2 separate regions of the Homo sapiens genome follow, and region 2 is linked to region 1. The links come from fine-mapping of genetic effects on gene expression. A gene starts in region 1. The other region holds a variant in brackets. All regions are shown on one strand. Distances are from middle to middle.

Region 1 (5,383 bases):
CAAGTCAAGGTGAAGGGTGGGTCCATAGCTTGTCTTCTACATAACTGGTGTTGTGAGTGAGGCACTCCTGCTCTCCTTCCCCTCTTCTCTCCAGTTCCCTTTGCCACCGCCCCCCCCCCACATTCCTTCTGCTACCCACCTTCCTCCCTTTCCCTTTTTCACCTCTCTTCTTTCTTCTCCACCCCTCCTTTCTCCCTCCTCCCTTACCCATCCCCATCCCCTTCTACCTTTCCCTTCCTTTCCCTCCATGCCATGTTCCTTTTCCTTGTTCCATTGCTCTCCAAAATCTTGAATGAGTGTCCTCCAACAGAAAAGCTAAGATGTGGGAAATACATCAGAATGTTAATAATAGTTATCTTTTTATTAAATTGTCCTTTTCCTTGTGATCCTCTACTTTCTTCTATGATAAGCATCCCTCTTTTATAGTCAGGAGAAAAGGCTAGATTTTTATAGTATAACACACTTTAATATTTATTTATTTTAGGTTGCAATACAAGAACATGAAAAACAGTATCAAATGAAGTGATCATTTTCAGTGAAAGGGAAGGTAGAACACAATACAAAGAAAACACGGTATCTTTAGTTTACAATTACACAATATAAGATGAAGAAACTTTTTCAAAAATACTATGTTATATTAACACCTCAGTGGTAAACAATAACATCATTATGATTAAATTTATAGGCCACTATATGTCACATACACAAGGTCTCAGTTGAATCAAATGTGGTCTTTTCACATTAGATGTATGCTAATCTTTTTCAAGCAGTCAAACTTCAAAATACACTGTTTTATTTACTATAAGTACTGGATTTCTATAGCAAACTAATGAAGGCACAGCTAGTGCAAGCAGATTTAAACCCTTAGTCTTATGGGCTGGAAAAAAGAAAAAAATAAAACACTTGCATTGGTACTTCATGAACTTTTTTTTTCAAGCAAATATTTGTTTCAGTTAACAATTCTGACAGTTTCACAGCTACAGTCTAACAGAAACATGACCAAAGGACATCACAAAAATCAACACTGTGTAGCACCAAACTAACATGCTTTAGATAATTGACAACAGCTTACATATTTTGAAGAATATTATACTACAACAGCCTAGATAGAATAAACTGGCACTTAGACACTTTTTAGGACTATTTTTAAAATATAGACTACCAAGAAACCACAAAAACTTGACTATAAGGAATAATAGTGTTCAGGTTACAGGTCAGGGTTTTACTTTTTTCAAGGCTGTATGAATCTGCTTCACTTCTTGAGATTTTAAGATTCTTGAAAAATCTTTCAGATTGACTTATTTTCTGTATTTCTTGTTTCCATAATGTTTGCCAAATTGATAGTAGGTACCATTGACTTCTCCAGTATAGTAATAGATTGATTTCAGGATGACATTATCATGTAAAATCTGCCCAATTTCAAAGTCCTCATCCAGGATAGCATCTTCTCGTGGTTCCAGCTTCCCAATCATAGGAATCTCAGGAGGACTAAAGAAGTTGAAGAATGATGCATTAGGAACCACTCTTGGCTGGATTTCAATTTCTCCAGTAGCAGTTGTGCGACTCTGGGTAGTTGTCACAGTAACATCTTTTCCTCTTCTCCAGTCTATCTTGCAGCCTTTGCAATCTTCAATTTCCCATCCCCAAGAAAAGAAGGGATCATTGTGATCTGGTTTTGCCTTTATTATATATGTCTTCACCAGCACCTCATTTCTGAAGTATGGGTTGGGTAGAAAATGAAATTCAAAGGTGTAACTTACAGGCTGGCCAGGTTTTGAGAACTTCAGGCTAACATCCGACAAGAACTTCAGAATGGGCTCATCATACTTCTGAATCATAGGCCCGAGCTTGTCAACATTCTTTAAAACAATCAGCCAATAGTCAGGAATGCCTTTAGGGTCTTCTCTTTTAGGCTTTCCCTTCCTAGCTCTTTTAAGATCTACACTGTCCTGAAGCCTTTCCTCAGGAACTCTTTTATGAGTCTCTCTTACTGCAGCCCTTGCCTTAGCCTCTGTTGCTTTAGGCTGTTCTTTATCATCTGCCTTTACCTGGGGGACTTCTTTAGGATCTTCTTTTACTTCAGGGGTTGCCTCCATACAGTCTTTAGAATCTGCTTTTTCTTCAGCCTTTACCTCAGGAATTTCTTTAGGAACTTCCTTTTCTTCATCCTTCACCTCAGGAATTTCTTTAGGAACTTCCTTCTCTTCAGCTTTCACCTCTGGGTTTTCTTTAGGGTTTTCTTCTTCCTCACCCTCTAAGGGAGGCATTTCACTAGGGGTGTTATCCTGCACCTCCTCATCACTGCTGAACTCCTCATCCTCTGAATTCCATTCACATTCTTCTTCTGTAGGCTCGTATTCTGCATTGATGATTTGAAACCGCCTATCATACAGAGGCTTGTTGAGTTCAGCATATTTTCTTTCAAGATCATGAATTGCTTTTAAGAACAGGGTATCTACCTTGTCACATTCATCTTGAATGTTTCTAAGCGCTTGCACACGATTTCTAACTGCCTGAGGCAGCCTATCCACGAAATTTGTTCCCAACGGGGCCCGCCGCGCCCTTCTGGAAGGCTCAGGTACCCTCTTCTTTCTATACAAGCGGCTGCGGCTGCTAGTGCTGCCGCTGCTGCTGCTGCTGCTGCCGCTGCCGCTGCTGCTGCCACTAGTGCTGCTGCTGCTGCTGCTGTCACTAGTGCTGCTGCTAGAGCTACTGCTGTCAGATTCTTCCCCAGAATCACTAGTCGAGCTAGCCATCTCCTCTTCGGCAACCCCATGGGCGACAGGTTCCGAGACCATTTTAAAATCTGCTTCTGCCATCTTGCAAGCCTACAAACTCTACCAGGGAGACCGCGCGACCAGAGATGGGCAGAAAATGACTCACGGATGCTTGAGTGGCGGCGGCGGAGGCCCGGGCTGCGGAGGTGGCAGCGGCGATGGCAGCAGCGGCGCAGAGCGGAGCTGGAGCTGGGGATGCAGAGGCCGGCGCTGAGGTGGCAGCGGCAGTGGAGGCTTGGGCGACAGCGGTGGCGGCAAGGCCTCTCCCGGCTGCAGCTAGAGTGCCGAGATGTACCGCAGCCGAATGGCGCAGTATGAGACCCCGAGATCTCTTCTCGTTTTAGATCGCGAGCCCCCTCCCCTTGCAGTCAGACCTCCCGTTAATTTCGTTCCCAGTGTGCCTTTAGTTCGCTCCTCATTTGCTGGTCCACCTTAATTGACAAACTGTACGCCCAACGAACGGCCAAACGCCACTACTCCTGGCTCCGCCCACCTTCCCAGACGCCGCTCGCTGGCTGAGGTGCGACCCCTTGGAAGGTGTCCCCCTGCCCCCCAAAAAGTCTATATTTATAGTTTTATAATTAAAAAAGAAAAAAAAGCGTAGACATGAGGTAAAAATACCAGCCATAGTTCCTAACAAGGGCAAAAGAGGCGTGTCTTCCTTCTCCCATCCGCCCACCCTGAATTCCCGTTTAGTTTGTCACGGGTCTCTTGACAAAAAGCTGTAAAAAAAAAAAAAAAAAAAAAAAAAAATTGAATGAAAATGGTCCAAATGGCGTCATTGGGTAGTGTGACTATGGACGATTTAAAAACAAAACGATTTTCTCTAAATATTCTATGAGCATGCATTTTTACACTGGATAAAAAAGGGGAGAGTCGGTTATTGGCAGAGGAGGGAGGGACTAGACAGCAGGCGTATTGCATTCCACGAAGCTGATTTAATAAGTGCTGTCTGTGATGTTTGGCAAGCCTGGTTTATATCCATCTACAAGGTTTGCGAACCCATGTTGCCGTGAGTCAGTTACACCATTTTTATTATATTTCTCTTTTTAGGCTGGCATATTATATACCCCAACCTTGCTGCTAACTTGCCACGTAGCCCTTCTCAATGCTTGTAACAACCTTGTAGATAAAACAAAGAGGTATTAAATGTTAGGTAGTATTGTTAAAAAGCAAATGATTTGCGTTATACTTTTGTGCAGCAGGTTTCAATTCCAAGAACAGTGGGATGGGAGGGGGAATTTGTGCTAATGAATGTGCATCTTCTGTCAGTGTATGCGATGTCATCTGCCACCAATTTCCTTCTAATGTTGTAAAATTCTAGCCATACTATAGTATGATTTACAAGTCCAGTAATATGTGAATAAACTTTTGCAAAATGAAGTTTAAAAACGAGTATTTGTTATTTTTATTTACAGGATTTTTTTTTCTGCTACAGAACAACTCCCTTGGTACAATAAAAAAGACGAGTATTTACTTTTCATTGAAAGGTAAGGATCATATTTAGCACATTTTAAAGAATGACAAAAATTACTCATCTCCATCTGAATAAAAGTTTACAGGATACAGTCATTTAAAGATTTATTTTAGAGAATTATCTTGATAATTCTATGGAAACAGGAAAATCCACAGAGGTAATTTGGCATACTAATGTAGACAATTACATACTTAACCGCATTAACTATCTAAACCTGGTCATAGAATACAAGTGGTAAATTAAAATATGAAATATGATAAATTATTCATTTCAAATGAGGAAATGTATTAAAGTTAGATTAATCTTTATAGAATTTGTGCTTTGTCATGTAATCACGTTTTTTAAAAGTTAGGAAACGCTTTTCTGTTTCATAAATGCATTTACTTTTATTGTTTATCTCTAATTGTCAAAGTCTGTGAACATTGCAAAGATAAAACAATATAGAAAATTCCAACAGTAGTAAAAACACAAAATCTTAACCACCAAATGATAAGAATTACTAGCATTTTGATGCACTTCCTTCCAGAAATTTCCTTGTGCATATACATACCTGCCTATTTATGTATACTGCTTTATCTATGTGACACCATATTATGTTTTGTAATCTTTTCATTTAATTTATCAATTACTAATGGCTATATTTTCATGGCAAATGATCGACATCTTATTTTTAAGTAAGTGCATATTCCATGGAAATAATTGCCTTAATTTATTTGACCAGATTCCTGTTATAGGGTGGCCATTTCTATACCATCTCTCCCCTTAAATACATACTATTTTCCTGCTATAATCAAAGTGTCCCTGGATACCTAAAGCATGTATTTCTATGCACTTGTGAAAATTGGTCATAAGATAAATTCCTAGAAATGGATGGCTTGGGGATGATCATTTCATATTATGAAATTATTATTGTATACATATTGCCAAACTCTCTGCAGAATTATTATCACAATTTACAGTTCCAACAGTGCATAAAGTTCATTTTTTTGTTATTCAACTAATATATTTTTGTGCTTGTCATATGCCGGGCAAATGTGGTAGAGGATTGTAGTATAATGGTGAATGAAATTTACTAAGTGCATATCCTTTCGTTGAATAATTTTAATCAAAACATATGTTATAGAAACAA
Region 2 (5,383 bases), 66 kb after region 1:
AGAGATGTTAAATTTTGTTGAAAGCCTTTTCTGAATCTATTGAGATAACGATATGGTTTTTGTTTTTGGTTCTGCTTAAGTGATGACTCATGTTTATTGATTTGCATATATTGAATCAACCTTGCAACCCAGGAATAAGACTACTTGATCATGGTGCACTATTTGGTGTGCTGCTGGATTGATTTGCTAGTATTTTGTTAAAAAGTTAAGTGTCTATGTTCATTAGGGATATGGGTCTGACATTTGCTGTTTTCATTGTATCTCTGCTAGGTTTTGGTGTCAAAATGATGCTGGACTCATAGAAGGAATTACAGAGGAATCCTTCCTTCTAAGTTTTTGAAATAATTTCTGTAGGATTGGTATCAGCTCTTCATTATATGTCTGCTATAATTTGGCTGTGAATTCATCTGTTCCAGAGCCTTTTCTGGTTGGTAAGGTTTTTTATCACTGATTCAATTTTAGAAGTTGTTATTGGTCTGTTCAGGATTTCAATTTCTTCCTGATTCAATTTTGGGAGGTTGTGTTTTTCCAGGAATTTGCCTATATCTTGCAAGTTTCTTAGTTTCTGTGCATAGAGTTGTTCATAATAGTCTGAGAGTTTTGTTTTGTTTTTTTTTTTTTGTATTTCTGTGAGATCAGTGGTAATGCCACATTTGTCATTTATGATTCTGTTTATTGGATCTTCTCTTTTGATCTTTATTAGTCCAGCTAGTAGTCTATCAATATTATTTATTCTTTCAAAAAATAAGATTTGGTTTCACTCATCTTTTGTATAGTTTTTCACATCTCAATTTTATTCAATTTAGCTCCGATTTTGGTTATTTCTTTTCTTGTACTAGCTTTTGGGTTGCTTTGTTCTTTTATTTCTATTTTTCTAAATGAGCTGTTATGTTGTTATTATAATTTGAACTTTTTCTAACTTCTCTATATAGGCATTTAGCACTGTTAAATTTCCTCTTAAAATTGCTTTAGCTGTGTTCCAGAGATTCTGGTGTGTAGTATCTTTGTTTTTATTAGTTACAAAGATTTTTTAACATTTCTGCCTTAATTTTATACTTTATCCAAAAACCCTTCAGAAGGAGGTTGTTTAATTTCCATGTAATTGTATGGTTTTGAGAGATCTTGGTATTGATTTTTATTTTTATTTTTATTGCACTGTTGTCTGAGAGTGTGGTTGGCATGATTTTGTTATTTTTGGAATTTGTTAAGAATTGCTTTATGGCTGAGCCTGTGGTCAATCTTAGAGTATGTGCTGTGCACAGATTAGAAGAATATAGATTCTGTTGATGGGTGGGGTATTCTGTAGATGCTTGTTAGGTCTGTCATGAATATCTTTGCTAGTTTTCTCTCTCAATGATCTAACACTGTCAGTAGGGTGTTGAAGTCTCCCAGTATTACTGTGTGGTTATCTAAGTCTCTCTGGAGATCTCTAAGAACTTGTTTTGTAAATCTGGGTGCTCTTTTGTTGGGTGCATATATATTTAGCATAGTTAAGTCTTCTTGTTTAACTCTTTATCATTATGTAATGCCCTTCTTTGTTCATAATTATTGTTGGTGTAAAGTCTGTTTTGTCTGAAATAAGAGTAGCAACTCCTGATCTTTTTGTTTTTTTTTTCTTTGCTTCATAGATCTTTCTCCTTCTCTTTACCTTAAGTCTATGGGTGTCATTGCATGTGAGATTGGCCTCTTGAAAACAGAATACAGTTGGGTCTTGCTTCTTTATCCAACTTGTCATTTTGTGTCTTTTAAGTGGTTATTTAGTCCATTTACATTCAAGTTTAATATGTGGGAATTTGATCCCGTCATTATATTGTTAGCTGGTTGTTTTGTAGACTTGGACTTGATTGCATAGTTGCCTTATAGTGCCAGTGGGCTATGTACTTAAGTGTGTTTTTGTGGTGGCAGGTAACAGTCTTTCATTTCCCTGTTTAGCACTCCCTTAAGGACCTCTTGTAAGGCAGGTCTAATGGTAAAAAATTCCCTTAGCATTTGCTTGTCTGAAAGGGATCATATTTCTCCTTTATTTATGAAACTTAGTTTGGCTCGACATGAAATTCTTGCTTGGAATTTCTTTAAGGATGTTTAATATAGGTCCTCAATCTCTTCAGGGTTGTAAGGTTTCTGCTGAAAGGTCCACTGTTAGCCTGATGAGGTTCCCTTTGTACTTGACCTACCCCTCTTCTCTAGCTGGCTTTAATTTTGTTGTTGCTGTTTTCTTTTGCACTGACTTTGGAGAATCTGATGACTATGTGCCTTGGGGATAGCCATCCATTATAGTATGTCACAGAAGTGCTCTGAATTTTCTGAATTTGCATATATACCTCTCTAGCAAGGTTCAGGAAATCTTCATGGACAATATTATCAGATATGTTTTCCAAGTTGCCCGCTGTCTCTCCATCTTTTCCAGAAATGCCAATGAATTGTAAGTTTGTACCCTTGATATAATCCCATATTTTGTAGAGATTTTTTCATTTTTTAAATTATTCTTTTTATTTTTATCTGTCTGCATTGATTTGAAGGAGCAGTCTTCAAGCTCTGAAATTTTTCACTCAGCTTGGTCTATTTTGTTATTAATG[C/T]TTCCAGTTGCATTCTGAAATGCCTGTAGTGAATTTTTCATTTCTAGAAGTTCAGTTTTGTTCTTTCTCAAAATGGTTATGTCATCCTTCAACTCTTTGACCATTTTACTTTTTTCCCTGGATTGGGTTTCAACCTTCTCCTATATCTCTGTGAGCTTCCTTGTCATTCAGTTTCTGAATTCTACATTTGTAATTTCAGCCATTTCAGTTTGGCTAGAAATCATTGCTCAAGAGCTAGTGGGGTCATTTAGAAGTAAGAAGACAGTTTGGCTTTTACAGTTGCCAGAGTTCTTGTGCTGGTTGTATCTCATCTGTGTGGGCTCATGTTTCTTTAATCTTTGGAGTTGCTCTCTTTAGGATGGTGCTTTTTTCTTTTATATCCTTTGATGCCCTTGAGGGTTTAACTGTGGTATAAGTTGGGTTTAGTGGATTGGCTTTGTTTCTGTATGCTTTCAGCAGGCCAAGGCTCAGCTCAGCACTCTTGTGCTGCATACTCTCACTCTGGGGGCTAGGACCAGGCCTGCAGCTTTGTTCCCTGACTCTTGAGTTTAAGCACCTGCTGCACTGGAGCGATGGAAGTGTTCTCAGTTCATGGGCAATAATCCTCTGATTTGTGTGGCCATCAAAAGTGCTATGGTGGGGCAGTGGTGGGCCCCCATGCATGCAGTAGTGGGGGATCTGTCTGCAAAGGTGGGTAGGCAGAGTCTGCCTGTGAAAGAGCTATAATAGTGGGCACTGGTGAATGTTTTGGCTAGGGATCTGAGGCCATGCTGCAAGCAGGTATGTCCAGAGAGAAACCCTGGGAAAAGCTGGCAAATGAGGGAGTGTTCAGATCAGACTGGCCTCATCCCATGGGCAAGATGGCCCTGTTCTGTCCAGTTCCAGCAGCTAACAAAGGCTCAATCTTCCTAGGGGATGGGAACCCATGACAGTGCTCAACTACAGCCTTTCTGGTACCAAACACTCTGGTCTTTCTCTAGGAGTTCTGTTTCATCCAGCTCTCCAGGCAGTTCTCACTGCCAGCTCAGATGTCTGTGGAGGTTGTCAGTTCTGTTTCTTCCATAGCTATGTTAACAATAAAAAAAAATTGTGGGTTTCTTTGTTTTGGTTTTTGGTTTTTAGAGACAGGGTTCTCATCATGTTGCCCAGGCTGGTCTCAAACTCCTCCTGATCTCAAGCAATCCTCCTGCCTTGACTTCCCAAAGTGCTGGGATTACAAGCATGAGTGGCAAGGCCTAATCAAAAAAGTGTGTTAAAAACAAGTTATGAAAGGTATTTGTTAAAACTAGTTGCTAGTTGCAATTGTCTGAGGCTTAGCATTCATAATTATTCTTTCTGGCCACTGATTACATAAGTTCCCTCATGCATGGAACTGACACTGTTTCACAATTTTTAAGGCAAAATAGTTTTCTCAATTTTCCTCTTAATCATCTCAATTTTAGGGTTTTGTCTGTTTTATTTCTTTTGCCTTTGTGATAGCCCTTTTATCTAAATTTTCCCATTTTCAAAATTGTTTTCAGTTTGACAATCATTCAGGTCAGGATGACACTGTGCAGGAAAGAAGTTTCTGCCTAAATGAGAGAAGTAATTACCCAGCAGAGTTACATAATTAGACAGTAAGTTTTGTTGTGTGTCATATATGTAGCTATAAGAAGATATGAGAAGAGACTAAAAATTTTAATTTATGCTTCCGTCATGTTTCTCTATGTTAAGCTTCTGACTGTCTAAGTTGGGAAGACATTTTATACACAGATAAAATCTATTTAAAGACAAAAAATTAATAACAAATGTATCCTAAAATAGCACCTGGAGCATACAAATATAGATGAAAGAAAGACCTTATTCAAGGAAGGTTTGCTCAGTCCTCTGATGGTACCTGATGTCAGGTTTATAGAATCCTTGGATCATGCTTCTTTCTTTCTGAGACAGATTGAAGGACATTACCACAGTACTACATGGATACGTAAAACACTAAGGCATACATTGAAGTTAGTGAGGTAAGATGTGGAGGCAGTAATACTCATTGATAAGAGGGTAGCTACAATCTTAACCTAAAGAATATCTCAACACATAACCTGACTAAAACTTCTGCATTAGCAATGCTTTTGCAAGACTTTGAAAACTCTTGTTGAAATGCATGAGTCAGATAGGAGTAAAAATCATTAACTCATTAACAAAATATTTATTTAATGTCCACTATACACTAGGTCCCCTGCCTGGTCTTGTTGGTACAACAATTAACAGAACTTGGTCTCTGACTTCAAAGATTTTCAAGCCTGGTAGGGAAAATGAACAAATAAATGTGCCATTACAATTTAAGGTTAACAGTGTAGGTAAAGGTTATGAGCCAAGTGTAGGTGGCTATAGAATTACAGAAGAGGGCCACCTAACTCAAAATGAAGGCTGAGTATTTGGGTCAGAATGGCTTCCAAGAGGAAATAATGTGTGAGCTTAGAGGAACAGCACAGATAAGGTTTAAATATTGGGTAAGAGATAGCTACATAAAATAATTAAAAACAGAAGGGAACTTTCAATAATAGCACATTTTACTAAATAAAGAAGTATTATATAGGTATAGAAACTAACAGACAAGCAAATCGAGAGCTACACATGGAGTCATATGAATACACACATGCAAACAAGTAAAAGTCATTTCATATTTTGGTTCCTTGGCATACCATTTAAGGTCAAGCGCACAATTTTTGGCCCTAATATTTCTTCGCAAGCTCATCTTCTACAATCCCCCTCGCAGTCCTAAACTTTCTCAATGTAGATAGTATTTTCACCAGAAAACAGAATTCTTAAGT

The links. PIP is the estimated chance that this variant, and not a neighbour inherited with it, causes the effect.
Region 2: its variant is fine-mapped to the expression of NAP1L3 in whole blood (TOPMed, PIP above 0.99).

The regions. Positions count from the first base shown.
Region 1 is chrX:93,670,486-93,675,868 of GRCh38, forward strand. It overlaps NAP1L3 (nucleosome assembly protein 1 like 3), which reads right to left and starts at 3,093. Exons shown (of 1, transcript NM_004538.6): 1 at 445-3,093. The coding sequence starts at 2,819. The coding sequence ends at 1,299. It overlaps FAM133A (family with sequence similarity 133 member A), which reads left to right and starts at 3,721. Exons shown (of 4, transcript NM_001171109.2): 1 at 3,721-3,789; 2 at 4,196-4,267.
Region 2 is chrX:93,736,005-93,741,387 of GRCh38, forward strand. No RefSeq gene overlaps it. Among named protein-coding and RNA genes, the nearest start is that of FAM133A, 64 kb to the left of the region's middle. The variant C/T (reference allele first, on the strand shown) is at 2,577.